2 separate regions of the Homo sapiens genome follow, and region 1 is linked to region 2. The links come from fine-mapping of genetic effects on gene expression. A gene starts in region 2. The other region holds a variant in brackets. All regions are shown on one strand. Distances are between the middles of the regions.

The links.
Region 1: its variant is fine-mapped to the expression of ANXA11 in whole blood (INTERVAL, PIP 0.99).

The regions. Positions count from the first base shown.
Region 1 is chr10:80,154,149-80,162,666 of GRCh38, forward strand. ANXA11 (annexin A11) reads right to left here. Exons shown (of 16, transcript NM_145868.2): 12 at 7,787-7,880; 13 at 4,952-5,047; 14 at 3,819-3,877; 15 at 3,493-3,615; 16 at 1-1,764. The coding sequence ends at 1,705. Among named protein-coding and RNA genes, the nearest start is that of PLAC9, 26 kb to the left of the region's middle. RefSeq lists enhancers at 4,034-5,233, 4,331-4,872. The variant G/A (reference allele first, on the strand shown) is at 4,260.
Region 2 is chr10:80,201,288-80,209,805 of GRCh38, forward strand. ANXA11 (annexin A11) reads right to left here and starts at 4,250. Exons shown (of 16, transcript NM_145868.2): 1 at 4,056-4,250. It overlaps LINC00857 (long intergenic non-protein coding RNA 857), which reads left to right and starts at 6,423. Exons shown (of 2, transcript NR_038464.1): 1 at 6,423-6,944. RefSeq lists enhancers at 1,939-2,028, 2,529-2,608, 5,248-5,889, 5,660-6,859, 5,890-6,531 and a silencer at 3,594-4,473.

The sequences.
Region 1 (8,518 bases), 47 kb before region 2:
TGAAGTGCAATGGTGTGATCTCAGCTCACTACAACCTCTGCCTCCTGGGTTCAAGTGATTCTCCTGCCTCAGCATCCTGTGTAGCTGGGATTACAGGAATGTGCCACCATGCCTGGCTAATTTTTGTATTTTTAGTAGAGATGGGGTTTCACCATGTTGGCCAGGCTGGGTCTCGAACTCCTGACCTCAGGTGATCTGCCCGCCTCACCTCCCAAAGTGCTGGGATTACAGCCGTGAGCCACCACGCCTGGCCAAATTTTTTAGTAGAGACAGGGGTCTCGCTGTTGGCTAGGCTAGTCTTGAACTCCTGAGCTCAAGTGATCCTCTCACCTCAGCTTCCCAAAGTCCTTGGATTACAGGCGTGAGCCATAGTGCCTAGTCGATTCTCTCTTTTCTAAACCTCAACGCAGGAGGTTGGAAAAGGAGTGGGTGGAGACCCCTGATGCAAGGTAAGCTCTAGCTTCTGGACATGACACCATAATTCTCAGAAACTCTCTTATGGATTCTCTTCCCTCACACCACCAACCAACGGGCACAGGGTCCCCAGAGACCAGAGCCAGGAGCCCCTTTCAGCCTGGAGGCACCCTGAGGGGAGGCACTGGTCTTGTGACTCTCTGGGTTGTCCCCATCCTTCTCTCTGGCCCCCGCCGAGGGGCACCAGGAATTAGCACACACCCTTCTTCCCTCCTGGGACCTGGGTGAAGGACTGCATTCTTCGCACCACACCTTCAGTGGACTTCACTGCACCTGCAACCAACCAAGATCCCTTTGCCTTTCAGGTGTCTGGGCCTCCTGCCTGGATTTCGGGAACCTCCCTTCCCATGTCCTTACGAGTCCCTGCAAACTAGTGTATGCTCAGGGTTTCCTGCACACAAATCTCTACGTAAGGTTACATGAACTTTCACTGGCTGATAAGGCCAGACCTCTGAGCCACAGGGCAGAATCAAGCAGAAGAAAACAAGTTGGTACCAGGAAGACATTTCCAGACCATTCCAGAGCTGGCTGACTCTTAATGTGGAAACAAGTTTTGGCTACAGACATTCAGGTTTAAGGCACATACCACAAATTACAAGAAGCCCTGTCACTGACAGGGAACTGGCTTTGTTCTCGTGGTTTCTGCAAGGAAGATGGAAGGAATGACTTTCTGGCCCTTTTTTTTTGTTTTTTCTAAAAAGGAGTGAGTTTGGCAGTAACAAAGCTCGTGACACACTCACCAGATGCACAGGCTACCTTCTCAGGCACGCCTCCCTTTCTCTCCTCAGCGAGGACACGGTGCTTCACCCACCCAGTCGCCCTCACCAGAAATGTGTATGCAGCAAACAGACTTGTATGCCTCTGTCTGGCAATGACTGTAAGAAAAGAAAATATGCCTCCAAATAAAAATATACAATTACATGACGAAATGAAGCCAAGTCTTAGCCACAGGCAAAGGGGAATGATTGCATGAGTCAGAAAAATGAAACATCTATTTTAGCAGCAAGAGGCTGTGAGGGATGGGGTAGAAAAGGCATCCTGAGAGAGTTCTAGACCGACCCAGGTCCTGTGGCACACTATACGGGTCAGGAGGGGTGGAAGACAGGCCTAAGCTCTAGGACGGTGAATCTCGGGGCTATTTGTGGATTTGTTAGAAACAGACATTCTTTTGGCCTTTTCCTGGCACTGGTGTTGCCGGCAGGTGGGCAGAAGTGAGCCACCAGTCACTGTTCAGTCATTGCCACCACAGATCTTCAGCAGAATCTTCCGGTAATCCCCTGAAGTATCTCCCTGGCCACAGAAACAAGGAAGACATCCGTTAAGGGAGGGACAGTCACTTTCAGCCTTCTGGGTCCTGATATTCAGCCCTGAGCACCCTTATAGGGAGAAAGCCCCACCCTGGGGAATTTTCTCCCACTGCAGGTCCTGCAGCAGGCGTCACAGACCTTAAAAAATGCAGTTCAGCCTTCTCCAGGCCCCCATCAGAAGACGGAAAGCAGCACTCACCCCAGCTATCCACATCAAATGAATACCCACAAAAAAAAATTATAATCATCCTAAAAACCACTTCCCAGGGCTAACCAATATTGCTGTTTTCCCAGTGCATTTATGCTGCCTTAAATTGGGGTTACCAATGTAACGCAACACAGTGTCCTGCTCAGGAAATGCAATCTCCTCACACATGACTGTCCAGTGGAAGGCTCAGACTGCCCAGGTCCCAGGGATCTCTCCTCTGTCTGAGGCCACTACACTTACTCTAAGAGTGCAGGCTCGGCTTGGCTCATTTCTAATCATTTCCTTCCACCCTAAGCAACTTGAGGGCAAGGCATGTGGCTTCTTCCAGATGTCCATAGCTTGCTGGCATGCAGGAGATACTCTGTAATGAATTATTAACTCTCTTTTTTTTTTTGAGACGAAGTCTCACTCTGTCACCAAGACTGAAGTGGAATGGCGTGATCCCAGCTCACTGCAACCTCTGTCTCCCGGGTTCAAGCAATTCTCCTGCCGCAGCCTACCTAATTAGCTGGGATTACAGGCAAGCCCAGCTAATTTTGTATTTTTAGTAGAGACAGGGTTTTACCTTGTTGGCCAGGCTGGTCTCGAACTCCTGACCTCAAATGATCCACCTGCCTCAGCCTCCCAAAGTGCTGGGATTACAGGCGTGAGCCACTGTGCCCAGCCTAGAATCACTAATTCTCTAACAACAGCTTCATTCATACAGCCAAGGAAACACAGTGAGTTTCCTGTGATGACATGCCCACCATCATCAAATGCTACTGAGTCTAAGGTGGGAGGACGTGGTCCCCATGGTGCAATTGCAAGGCTCATGTGAGTTCAGAATTTGAGCGTTAGACCACACAGCTGAGAATGTATTTTGTCAGACTGGCTCTGCCACACAGCGATACAACTGTGGCTAGTGTTTAATAGACACTTGACCTGCACTGCCTCACTCAATACTCACAACATTCCCAGGAAGGAACGATTATTTTCTCATCTTAAAGACAATGGAGCTGGGGTTCAGGGAGATTTAAGGGAGCCATTCAAGGTCACACAGTTAGCAAGTAGAAAAGCTGGACTCCAAGTGGCGTGACCCCCAGGGCCCTCGCTCTGAACGGCCTTACTATGTGGCCTACGCCATAAAGCTGAGTGCAGGAAGTGCTTTGTCAGGGAGTGACAGCAGAGCTCCACAGAGCCTTTGGGACATGAGTTCTCACTGACAGATCAAGGAATCACACGGTGATCGGAACGCTGAAGGTCACGGTCAAGGTTGGGGAGGTCCCGAGTGTTCTCTGATGCTGCTGGGGGATGCAAGGTGGGGGCGACAGCAAGGTCATGATCCACCTGCCCTCAGAAATTTATAATCTGTTTAAGGGCAAGGGGATGAACAAGTCCGAGGTCCATAATCAAGATGCCCACACACAGCACAGAGGCCAAGCATATGGCCACTCCAAGGAGGGAGGTTCCACAGGTGACTGAGATGCCAAAAGGGAGCCCAGTTGGCCTGCAGCAGGCCCGTACCGAGATGTCGTGGTACAGCGACTTGCCGTACATCCGCTTATACTCTGATCTGATGTCCAGGAGGTCGGTCTCGCTGCGAGACACCATGATGCGAATCAGGGTCCGGTCCTTTGTTCCTGCCCCCTAAAGAGAGTCCACCCAAGAGCATGAGCACCAGGCCTCCTCACCTTCCCACCTGCCCTGGGCCCTCCAGTCCCCTCCCTACCCAGGTCCTCGGAACTCTCAGCTGAGATTTAGCTCTCCCCAGGCCTTCTGCCCTCAGCCCTTGGTCCCAGGCACAGGCGAGGCTAAGGTTCCATCGCAACCTGCACATGGAAGTTACATACCCTCATGGCCTTGTTGAGCCTCTCCGCAAAGAAGGCTGGGGTATTCTTGAGACATTTCACTAGAAGAGAGAAACTCGGCATAACCAGATCTGCAGAAAATTCTCAGCCCAAGCAGGGCATGGAGTCTACAAGTGTCCTCTTAGAGGCCCAGATGTCAAACCCATCACTGCATCCATCTTTTCTCCTCCTCCTTCTGTTCCAGGCTCAACTATCCCATGATCTTGGCTCCAGCTATTTGGAACAGAAACACGCAAAGCCTGGAAACCAACCCACCCTCTTTCCTGGCAACCACTGCGGTGAAAGGACCAAGAGTCAGAGGGGCGGGGGTCTTAGTGGGGCTAGGAGCTACACAGGGAAGCAATGTGGATGGTGATGAGGAACTGTGCTGCTGCTCAGGCAGGAGGGGCAGACTGGAGAGGCCATGACCGTCATGGAGAAACC[G/A]TGGCTGAGTGGAATGTGCATCTCCCTAGGCTTCCCAGGCCATGAGACCTACTATGGGGGACAGGCAGGGAAATGAGGATTTTCCATCTCTCCCATCCAGAAAGCTCCAAAAAAAGCATAATGAAAAAAGGGGCAGACTGATTTTCCCAAGTGAGTAGAAAGAGGGGTTGTGAGGGCCTCAGGGCAGGGACCCAACTCTGCACAGTGGGAGGGCCCTGCTAGAGGACATGGGCAATGTAAGAGGCACACCACCATCCTGGAGCCAAGCCAGCTTTCCTCAGCATGGGCCTGTTTCGCTGCTGCAAGTAAAAATCTTTCCACGTGTTTCCATCACAAACATCTGACAACTGCCTGCAGGGATGTATTTTTAGAGGAAACGTGGCAGGATATGAGTCATACTCCTCCGGGAGCGCAGTTGGATGCCCTCCCACTAATACCCACACTGCAGTTCCCTACTCCAGAGCTGCACCGCAAACACACACAAGACACCTCCAGGACAGCTAGGGGTTCAACTGCACAGGGAACCGGGAAGCAGCATGACTTCCCAGCATCTGGACACTCTGGGCTGAGCGATCTTGGATCCTGTGGTCCCTTCACGGTGTCACCCATCAGCTGGAGGACAGGCGAGCAGCCTGAACACTCACGATACACGTTAGCCCCTGGCAGGTGGGCGGCAAACCTGAGACACTTACCCACGGCCAGCATGCCCTCCTCCAGGTCCCCGGACATCTCCCGGCAGATGCTCTTCTCAATGTCCCGGCCTGTCATTCTCTGGTACTCATTGAAAACTATGGGGATGACAGAGGCTTATATTATGAACTGAAATGTGTCTCCCCAAAGTTCATATGTGGAAGTCCCAACTCCCAGGACTTCAGAATATAACCGTGTTTGGAGATAAGATCTTTAAAGAGGTAATTAAGTTAAAACATGCTGCTAGGGTGTACCCTAATCCAATTCGCCTGGTCTCCTTAGAAGAAGAGAAGATTAGGACACACACAGAGATCCCAGGGATGTGCACATGCAGAGGAAAGACCATGTGAGCACAGTGATTGTCACGAAGAGGCCACGGGAGAAACCGGCACCCCACTCTTGGATATCTGGCCTTCAAAACTGTAACAAAATGAGTATCTGCTGCTTAAGCCACCCAGTCTGTGGTATTTTGTCATGGCAGCATGAGCAGACTAACAGAGGACTCACATGAGGTGGCCTCTGCCCCAAAATCTCCCACCTGCCACTCTGCTCCCACACCCTGCACGTCCCCAGGCCTGCTAGCGCTCAAGGAAGTCAGAGTCTTCGTCACAAGTTACATGCACCACCTGATGTCCCTCCCTGTGTGGTCCCTTTCTCAGGACTGCCAATCTGCTTAACCAAATCGCACCTTAATACCCCTCCAGGGCCCACTCCCATGTACTCCAAGACAGTGTCCCCTCTTCTCAAATCCTCCACACCTCCAGTCTCTGCCATTCCTTGGCTTTATTCATGCATCCATCTGTCTTCCTCAGCCTGCCTGTGAGCTGAGGCCCAGCCTGCCCCAGCCAGCCTGGCTTCTTGCTGCTCACCTCGACCTAGGACACGCTAAGCACCCACAGGAGTGGATGGCTGGCTCCTAGAGAGACAGGTGGCATGATGGAGACCTTGGTCCTGACTCCAGTTCTGACCCAGGACATAAAACTCTCCTTCCCCAGCCTGAGTCTCAGCTACCATTTGCATTTTAAAGTTGTGATTTCTGCTCTGTGTGTATCTGTCTCAATTAATATCTTCTTCCAATCAGCTACTCTTTTCTCCTAAGTAATAATGTTTGTGAAGCCATGGGCTTGATGCACTACTTACATGTTCTGTACTCATTAAAAGAAATAATGATTAAGATGAAAATGCTTTCACTCAGGCTCCATTACAGGATAGTGCAGAGGTTAAAAAGTGTGCTCTGGGGTCGGGTGGTCTGGGTTCAAATCCCAGCTCAGCTGTTACTAGCTGTGCACCCCTACTTCCTCTACCACCCTGTGCCTGCTTTCACAGCTGCGAATGGGGAGAGCCACAGCGCCTGTCTCTGTGTGCAGCACAGAGCGGTCGCTGGGTTTTCACCCTCACTGCCCACTGGAGCAGCCCTGGCCACAGCCCACCAGTTGCTCCGTGTGGTCACCATCCTCAGTCCTTGCCTGCCACCTCACACTGGCCTCCAGGACCCCCTTCCTCTGCGTCCTCCTCCCTCCCTAGCTGCTCCTTCTTAGTCTCCTCACACCGGTGGGCTCCCCACAGTCTCCCTCCTGAGGGGACCTCCTGCAGTCCCAGAGCCTCAGATAACTTCAACTACCCATAGCTCCCTTACCTTCCACAACCAGGCCAGACCTCTCCTGACCTCCACACTCAGCAACCCAGCAGCCTCCCTGCAGCTCCACCCTACAGGCACCTAAAGCCAGCTCCACCTACAGTCCCCCTGTCTCAGTTGAGGGCCATTCTCCCACTGCTTGGCCTAAAGAAACCCTGTATAATCCTCGAACCCTCTCTCTCCCACACGTCACGTGTCCAATTCATCAGCAAACATGGCCGGAACCTGACACCTCCTCACCACAAGCCCCTATTACCACCATTCCTCCCCGGGTCCCTGCAGCAGCCTCCCGACAGGCTTCGCTGCTTGGCCTTGCACCCTTCACTCCATTCTCGGCACCACAGCCAGGGATTCTGCACAGCCTCCTCTGCTCAGGGCCCTCCACTGGCTTCCTCTTTTGCTCAGGATAAATACCCAGCTCCGGGAAGTCATCAGCAGGGCCCTCTCCCCTCTCTGCCCTCACCTCCCACTCCTCTTGCTCACTCCACCTGCTCCACATGGTCCCCCTTCACTGTTCTCAGTCGTGCTGGGAGCCCCAGGCAGGCCTCTGCCCCTGCATCTCCCTTTAGGTTTTTAAATCAAATGTCACGACCTCAGTGGGGACTGGCCCAAGCACCTCCCGGTGGACCCTACCATCACTCCCTACCTGTTTCCAGCTTGATTTTCCTCTACAGGATTTCCCATCTGATACAGATTTTATTTCATTGTTGTTTACTGTCTGTCTCCCCAAATGAGAAAGTGCAGCCCATGGAACACACTCTGCAGTGCCCTGCCCCCCACCGTGGCCCCACACCTGCTCCACCACCTGACAGACTGACCCATGCGGGAGCGCGATTTACATCTGTTGAATGAATGAGTAAATGAATGGCACCCAGTTTTATTGTTATGACTGTTTCTTATGCCAGGCTTTGGAAAACACTGGATTGGGTGCTCCCGAAGGACCCTCCCAACTCTGACGTTCCACATTCCCACGTACAAAGACACCAGGTTTCTACACCGGTAGAACCTCCAGAACTGGATGTTTGCCAGAACTCAGGAAACCCTCTGACAGTGTCTTTTAAATTCCCACCAGGGGGCTCTTTTGAGGAGGCGAAAGCCCCACGCAGGGAGGAACGACCAAGTGTTCCCATAGCTTTGTTTCCCCACAATCCCCTGACTGCCCTCATCTAACTGGCCTCTGAGGGACCCCAGCCTGCCTTACCTGCTACCAGGTGGGCCCGGCTCCGGGAGCACAGAACCGCATTGAACTTGGACTCGTCTGTTCCCAGGCGGTTCTCCCCGGCCGCATACAGCTCCTGGAGAGAGAGGAAGACGCACATGTGGCACAGGCCACACCCAGACCCCAGGCCCAGGTCACCCAGGAGAGCCTGGTAAACTTCTGAAGGTTTGAGCCTAAAGTATTTGCCAATTTGCAACCTCTGAACTAGATGGCCTCTAAAGTGCCTGCTAGGCCTCAGGTAGCAGCCCTGAAAAAGAGCAGAAAGCAGCAATCAGGGGCTGAGATCCCACAGGTCAAGATGAGGCCAAAGCAGCTCTGGACTGAGAAGGCAGAGCATGAGACAATTTTTGCCCCGCTAAAAGTGGCATGCAAAACTCTCGCTGGAGCAAAAGCCAGAGCCCTGAGCCCCAGGCGTGTCCAGCCCTGACTCCCAGAATGGGAATGGATGTTACCAGCCAGAGAGACACTGAATAAGGCAGACCCTGCAGGAGCAGCAGGTCTGAGACCAGGGCAGAGGCAAGTGCTGACTGGGCACAGAAGACCGAGCCAGGAGTATAGGCCCTTGTCCGGGCTCTGCTTCTAGCTTTCAGTTGGGAACAGTGCTCAACCTTTTTGAGCCTCAGTTTCCTCCTCCGGAAAAGGAGGACCAGCAAAAGGACCAGACCAGAGGAGTAGCTCTCCTCCAGCCCTAACAAGGGGGCATTCCTTGAGGTC
Region 2 (8,518 bases):
GCTTTCTGGGCCCCTCTCAGGTCGCTCTTTTTCTGGGTCCTTTATAGGCTCATCTTCCTTTACTCAGCTGTTCGAGGTGAGTTCTTCAATCTCGCTGTGCCCATGACTTCAAATACAAACACAACCTAGACAAATGTCTGTCTAGCCAAGACGCCTCCTGAGCCCCAGACCCACCAGCTTATTTGGTATCTCAAAGACACCTCAAACACAACATGTCCAAAACCAAATACATGATCTTCTTCATCCTCCAAACCTGGTCCTCATCCAGTGTCCCATGTCTCAGGGACACCAGGTGGATGACTCTAGGGTGAGTGGGGGCGGTCTCTCCTTTTAAGCACACCACGCAGGGCGAGGCCAACAGTGGGTTCTCAGTAATAAGCAGTTCTACAGGAACATGCCTTGTCACCTACTTCCTAAAAATAGCCGTGACCTTTTTAGTGGACACAGCAAGCTCACATCTGTTATCACCACTCCTTCCCCACTGTCACACGCACCCTTTCCCCCAGTGGTGCCACTCCCCAGGCTGGATATGCCATATGCTCCCTAGCCTCCCTGTGAGCAGCCTCCACATTTCTCTTCTCTGCCCTCACTCAGATTTCCCCCATCTCATGTCCTCCAAGTCAGCCATCCCCAAGTGTGAGGGGCAGGGGACACCTGACTTCCTTCTCAATTTCCTTTCCTTCTTTTCTGCTAAGGCGGAGCCTAAGCCCCTGGAAAGCTAGAGATCCCAGAACCAGGCTTTGACCACCGCACACTCCACCCTCTGCTTCACAGCTCCTGGCAGTCACACACCCACGGTATCAACATTGTCATCACCACCCGCTAACTGATCTCAAACCCCTTTGCAAACATCTTCTCATCTGATTCTCCATTCCAGGCAGGCATTTTATCATCCAGAACTGTTCTGTGGGGGGGAAGCGGGGGGTCTCTGTGTGGCTGGGTGGCTTGTCCTAGGATACCTAGCACAGAGAACTCTGTCCCCCAATTTCTTAGTTGCCCCCACCCATTCCTTCCTCACATCAGCATGGGCAAGGCCAGCTGTGGTTTGGGTCACTGTTCAGGCTGTACTTTTAGGATCCTCCCAAATAGCAAACAACTATGTGACTATCAGGTCTTTATTTCATGGGTTATAGGAGATAGGGTCAGTAAGCCTAATGTGTAACAGTTTCAGTGGTTATTACAGAGTTCCATTGAATTGCAACAACTCCCTTTAAAAGCACAAACTCCCACCAAGAAAATCTCAGTTTCTTCATTAATCCTAAGAGCTTTCCTATCTAGGTATCACTCAAAATTCCTACTATTCTGGGGGCAATGGGATCAGAGGGTGTTGCAGAGAAAAATCCAGAGAAAGTGAAAAGTCTACTTCCTTGGCAGTGCTGGTGAAGCATACCCTTACACAGACGCTTCCCCATGGGAACAAGTGCCAGGAACTGCTTCAGGCTTACGGGGGAAAACAGTGGCTAAGAAGAGAGAGGAGGCCGGGCACGGTGACTCATGCCTGTAATCCCAGCACTTTGGGAGACTGAGGCAGGCAGATCACCTGAGGTCAGGAGTTCAAGACCAGCCTGGCCAACATGGTGAAGCCCCGTCTCTACTAAAAATACAAAAATTAGCCGGGCATGGTGGTGCATGCCTGTAATCCCAGCTACTCGGGAGGCCAAGGGAGGAGAATCATTTAAACCCAGGGAGCGGAGGTTGCAGTGAGCCAAGATTGCATCACTGCACTCCAGCCTGGGTGACAGGGCGAAATCTGTCTCAAAAAAAAAAAAAAAAAAAAAGACAGCAGAAGAAGAGGGGTGAATCCAGGAGGAAGGAGGGGGTGCACCAGAAAGGTCCCAGGACCTCTGATGTTCCAGCATTCAGCATGCATTTTGGTTCCACATTCAGCTCCTGCCCACACCAGTTTCTTTTCTCTATTCTACAATTTCCAAGAAGAACCCACACTAACCTATTCTGTCTCAACTCCCACTCCTGTCATCCCAAGCCACACATCACCTCCCCAATCACGTGAACTAGGCATCACTAATCGATCCTGGCCTTCTAGACACATCCACCCAGGGTGGGCCCTTTCTATAGTATCATGCATAAAGGCGTCAGGTGAGGCTTCCACTCCCACCTCTTAGTCCCAATTCATCTCCATCTCACCCTCCCCACGTTTCTCTATCCAAACCCAGCCTTCAAGGTCCTATATTTTAACCACAGGGAAACCACTTCCCTGTGCTGTCTCTGTTGTTCAACTAACGACAACTAATTTTCTGAGCACCTACATTAGGCAAGGCCCATCCTGAGTGCTGCCACCAAGAGGTAAGTCAGAAACAGCCCCCACCCTCCAGAGTCAGAGGACAGGGCAGCGATAAGCCACACCGCCACACAAATACTATGCAAGGCGAGAGATGAGAACCGAGTCAGTGCCAGAAGGGCTGAGTGAGCTCAGAGCATATCCCGTCCCTCCTGCTGGGAGCAGGCACCCGGATGGCTCCCAGGAGGGTGGAGAATGCTAGGCCAGACAGGGGAGGGAGGGCATTCCAGTAAGACAGAGAGCATGAGCTTAGCATGAGCTAAGCCAGAAAGACGGTTCAGGAGAAGTGCATTTCAACTTTAGCTGAACCTTCCACTGCTACTATTTATTGACCCTTACACCTGATTATTTATGACCCAGGCCTGCCTCACACACTTTATGGCTAATGTGGGTGACACCCATCTGGGATACACAAGTGTGGTGCAGCAGTCACCACCTGTTCTGACTGGTCCGTACCTGAGCTCTGTATTGTTATTAAATAAATGAATGCACTGAATCTCACAAGCCTGTGAGGCAGGGATTACTATTACCCCCATTTTACAGATGAAAAACCAAAGCACAGACAATAGTCAAAGAAAAGATAGCAAGGTATGCAGGAGCCTGAAGTAGTGGGCACCCAATGCCAGGGCAACAAACTGCCCTGGCACCTCACCTGGCCTCTCTTATCAGGGAACACCTTGCAGCACAAAGAATGCCTTGAGGAAAGGGGCCCTGTTAATCCCCTGGAATCCCCAACAATTGACTGCCGCATAAAAGGAATGAGGAAAGCAATGAGAGCCAGTGAAGGGTGAGCATACCAGGCCCTGCCCTGCAAACCTAGTCCCTGTTGCGTGGGCAGGGCAGGGCAGGGCAGGGCAGGGGCTCGGCCTCACAGCTCCACTCCATGCCCAGCGCAGAGAACAGAGGGGAGAGCTACCACAAACGCCGAATCTCTACAGAGAGGTCAAGGATTGGAGGGCAGAGACAGAAATGCCCCGGGCTGACTGTTTCCAGCTTGGGCTAGCACTGGCTGGCTTAACTTTTCCCCTCCAAAGTCTCTAGGTAACAAACTTCGCGTGTCTCCTTTAAACCAACAGACCATTTTACCTAAGTCTTAAGGGCCTGGCCTGCACCCATGGGAGATACAAGTCCAGGAATCCCTTCCTGAAACTGGGGATCAAGGTTGGGGAAGGGGCGAAGGCACGCACAGCACCTGGGATGGCTCCCGCATTCCCTCAAACACTGGGGAGAGTTCCTTACAAATAAACTGCAATGGTAGCAGCTCCCAGGAATGTGCGTGCTCCCAGTTTCGGAGGAAAGTTCCTGAAGATAGCCTTCTCTGCTTAATCTCCCCAAGCCTCGCCTAGAAGGGCGCGCGCACCCTGGAGGGCTCCGCAGGGCTGCGGGGCCGGGCCTCCGGCACCCCTCCCGCCACCCGTTGCCTCCTGCGCCCAGGGTCACGGCCCCTGGCCCTACCCAGGCCCAGACTGAGACCCCGACCCCTGAGCCCGGGGGGACGGCGAGTGCACCCCGACCACACATGAGGGAGCAGCCCCAGACGCCGAGGCTGATCTAGGGGGCTGCCAGGCCGACACGGCCCGCCCGCGACCCGCCGACGCCCTCCCCTGCCCCCCACCCCCACGCCTGTAGTGCAACCAGGAAGCCGCAGGGCCGCGCTGGGCTGGGCGCCAGGCAGCCCCGGGCCTCACCCGCGGCGCCGCGGTGCACTGCCGCCGCCTGGTCCCAGGCCCCCAGCCGGCTCGGGACCCTCACTCACCTGGCCACGGGGACTCCGGACGCGAGGGGCGAAATGGGACGTGGGCGGGAGTGGCTCTCTCCGCGGGCGTCCCGGGCGCGGCGCCTGGGTTCTGCCTAGGGGCTGGGTCCCACTCCCGCTCGCGGGGCCCGCGGGGCACTCGGGGCACTGGGGAGCCGCGGGCGCAGCAGCCGTCAGCGCCGGGCGGAAAACTCCGCGGGCGCGGCTGCCCCAGGTGCCAGAGGCAGTGCAAGGGAGGGGCGGGGCCTGAGCGCGGCCCCGCCCCCAAGATGAGGACTGGGCACGGCGGGCCCGCGAGGAGCAGCAGCCTTCCGGCTGCGGAGCTGCTCCAGGAAGTCTCGGGCTCCGGAGGTCCCTCTGCCGCCCCTAACCCCTGCGGCGCCCAGTGCCGCGCAGAGCCGCATTCGCCCTCCTGCAGGGGTGGGCATTTCCTAAGTCCTCTCCAGCCCCGTGTGCGTCGGTTAGTGACTCTCTTTAAGGTCGAGAAAACTTTTTACACTGAAAAGGTCAAACGCATTTCCTTTATAGCAACACTCGGTGGTGGTGGAGGGGGGAAGGTCACGCACAGTATGTGAGGAAGGGAGCGGTCAGTGACTATCGTGGAGAAACCTGACAAACCACCCAGCCGTCAAGGTGACCTCGACAGGGGTAAATCATACTGATTGCATGCACCGCTTGTGGTCTTCCTCCCAAGAACACCTAACCCCACTGTAATCATGAGGAAAACATCACAAATCAATTGAGGCCCTTGCCATATACATGACCAGTACTCCTGAAAACTAGCAAGGTCATCAAAAACAAGGAAAGTCTAGGACACTGTCACAGCCAAGAGGAACCCACGGAGATATAAAAATGACTTAAGATGTTAATAATAGGAAAAGCCCGGGTTTATGAGAATTCCCTGTATTCACACTTTTTCTGTAAATCTAAAGATGTTCTAAAAATAAAGCATATTTTTAAAAGGTCACCCAGGTAATATATGCATATATGGTAGGTATACAATTTTTTTTTTTAATGAGTGGTGGCTGACGCCTGTAATCTCAGCACTTTGGAAGGCCAAGACAGGAGGATGGCTTGAAGACAGGGCTTCCAGACTAGCCTGGGCAACATAGTGAGACCCAGTCTCTAAAAAACTAAAAATAAAAAATTCAAAAAATGAGTAAAAATTGAGATTCACTCTTCCCTCCACTCCCCCAGCCCACTCTTAGGTGTGTCCTTCCAAATATCTCTCTTTAACACTGTGTGTGTGTGTTTACATAAACGTATTGTTTACAAAACGATATTGCAGTACTTTTCTGCAACATGTTTTTTTACTCACTATATCTTGGAGGGTCTTTCCATACAAGTGCTCCTGAACAGACCTGGTTCTTCCCATCCACTGCACACTGCGCGCCATCGTGCGCTTCACCATTCTTCATTACCTAGCTCCTTACTGAAGGACATTTAGGTTGTTGCCTATGTTTGGCTGTTACAAACAAGCTGCTGGTTCGATTTTCCTTTTTTTTTTTTTTTTTCTGAGACGGAGTCTCGATCTGTCGCCCAGGCTGGAGTGCAGTGGCGCGATCTCGGCTCACTGCAACTTCCGCCTCCCGGGTTCAAGCGATTCTCCTGCCTCGGCCTCCTGAGTTGCTGGATCTACAGATGCCCACCACCACGCCCGGCTAATTTTCATTTTTAGTAGAGACGGGGTTTCACTATGTTGGCCAAGCTGTTCTCGAACTCCTAGGCTCAAATGATCCGCCCGCCTCGGCCTCCCAAAGTGCTGGGATTACAGGCGTGAGCCACCGCGCCCGGCCCGATTTGCGTTTTAAAGTCGCTCTGAACAATAAAATCCGGAAGGACTGGAGGGGAGGCTCCGACCTTCTCCCTGTCTGGGCAGGTGTGCTGGTGCCGGGCAGGAACGGTGCCTTGGGACAGCCTGGCCCCGGCCTCACAACGGGCCCCGGGCGCTCAGTCATATTCCGTGGCCGCTCCAACACCCCCTACCCCCACCAGCAGGCGCGGCTCTCTTTCGGGGCTGGACTGCATTTTTTGGACATGAGTCGGCGAGTGAGGGTGAAACTCAGGCCAAAGTCTCCAGAGCCGCTCGGAGAAAACGCTGCCTGGAACAGAAGAGCAGAGGATCAGAGGCACCACCAGAGACTCTCAGAGTGGGTTATTACCCTGGTGGGGGCGCCTGCTGCGGCGTAGGAGATGGCGGGACTGGGGGCGCGGGTGTGAAGCCCCCAAGAAATCTGTGTGAATTTCCTGGGGAGGTAAGGTCTCCAGGCGCTCTCTCTGGGCCCGGGGATTGGTCCGGGAAGGTCTCCTGGCGCCTACCCAGCCCCCACTGCCTGGACGCCTGCGCCTGCTCTGCCGCCCCACAGCGACCGCGAAGGCCAGCTTCTTCGAAAGGCCCATTTTTCTCCGTGGCTGAGCGAATGCTCCTAGAATACCACGTTTATAATAAATCATGTAGGGTGGAATTCCTGCTGGATGTATACACCTTTCTGCATCAGAGCTCTTCAAACCCAGAATGGTGAATAGCTACCCCTGGGCTTACCCTTTTATAATTTTCAACAAACCTGCGTTTAGCCCCGGCTAGGTGCCAGCAAGTTGCTAGGGACTGAGGAGGCTCTGCAGAGGACCCGAGCTGAGGCCCTAATCCTCAAGGCCAATGGCAGGGGTCACCGCCCAGGCACCCCCAGAGAACGCGGTGTGAAGGAAAAGACACCAAACTCGGTGTTCAAATGTGTGGGATCTATTCTAGTTCTGATTCTGACACTTGCAAGTCATGCATCCTCCGAGCCTCGGCTTTCTCACCTATAAAATCTTCAACGTGACCTATAAAAATCCATAAAATCACCCCTGCTTCATTGTTTCCCAGGGCTCATAGAAACATCATACAAGGTAAGGGAAGGTGAGTGCACTGTAAAAAATGGTGACGTGCTATATAGCTCTGAGTAGTATGGTATATAAGCTTCCTTTTTAAAAATTTTAATTTTAGGGCCAGTGTTGGGATTACGGGTGTGAGTTACCGCACCCGGCCTCTTTTGTTGTTTTCTAATAAGTATATATGACTATCATTTCCCTCAAAAGTCTGCTTTAGCTGAATATCACAAGTTTTAATATGCTATGCTTTTGTTATCACTTAGTTATACATATTTGGATTTTGTTGTTGTTGTTGTTACAGAGTCTCGCTCTGTCGTCCAGGCTGGACTGCAGTGGCAAGATCTCAGCTCACTGCAACCTCCACTTCCCGGGTTCAAGAGATTTTCCTGCCTCAACCTCCTGAGTAGCTGGGATTACAGGTGCACGCCACCACACCCGGCTAATTTTTTAATTTTTAGTAGAGATGGGGTTTTACCATTTTGGCCAGGCTGGTCTCCAACTCCTGACCTCAAGTGATCCACCGGCCTCAGCCTCCCAAAGTGTCGGGATTACAGGCGTCAGCCACTGTGCCTGGCCAATATTTTGTTTTTTATGTTAGGATTGTATGCTTAATTCATGGATTATTTAGACGTATATTTTCCATTCTTTTTTTGTTTTCAAACTTCAGTTTTTTAAAAAATAATAATAATCATTTGGGGAGGGGCCCAGTGGCTCAGGCATGTAATCCCAGCACTCTGGGAGGCCAAGGTGGGAAGATCGCTTGAGATCAGGAGTTTAAGACCAGCCTGGGCAACACAGTGAGAGCCCCTCTACAAAAAAAAATTTAAATAAAAATAAATCAATCATTTTGTCATTGATCTCTAACTTTAATGCTTGGAGATGAGGAAATGTGTTCTTTTAGAATTTGTTAATGCCTCCTTTGTGGCCTCATATACAGACTTTTTTTGGCTGTCCCAATTTTTGTGAACGTCTCTTCACTTTTTATGTGGTTTTTTTTTCTCTATATCTCTCCATCTAGCTTGCTAATCAGGTTATTTAGATCTTTTATCTCCTGGGTTTTTTTTTTTTTTCTCTCCTGTTCAATCCATTGATTTCTGAAAGAGTAGGTTTAACATTTCCCACTTTTATTGTAGTTTGTCAATTTCTCCCTCTAATTTAGTCTGATTTTGCTTTATACTATTTTTTTTGGTTTTTTGATTTTTGTTTAAGAGGCAGTGTCTCACCATGTTTCCCAGGCTGGAGTACAGTAGCTATTCACAGGTGTGATTATAACTGCAGCCTCAAACTCCTGACCTCAAGCCATCCTCCTGCCTCAGCCTCCTAGGTGGCTGGCATTACAGCCATGTACCACCTCACCCGGCCAGCCTTATAATTTTGAGAGCAAATTATTAGGCTTATACAAATTAATATTGTTTTATCCTTTTATGACTTATTCAGTTTTATTACTTTTTGTATAAATATTGTTATCCTGAGATAGCATTTGTCTAGTATATGTTTTATTTCTCCTTTTTTACTCTTTCTGTATTGTTACTTAGGTTTATCTCTTGGAAATGACATATTGTTTTTTACAAGATTTAAAAAGTTCATCTGAG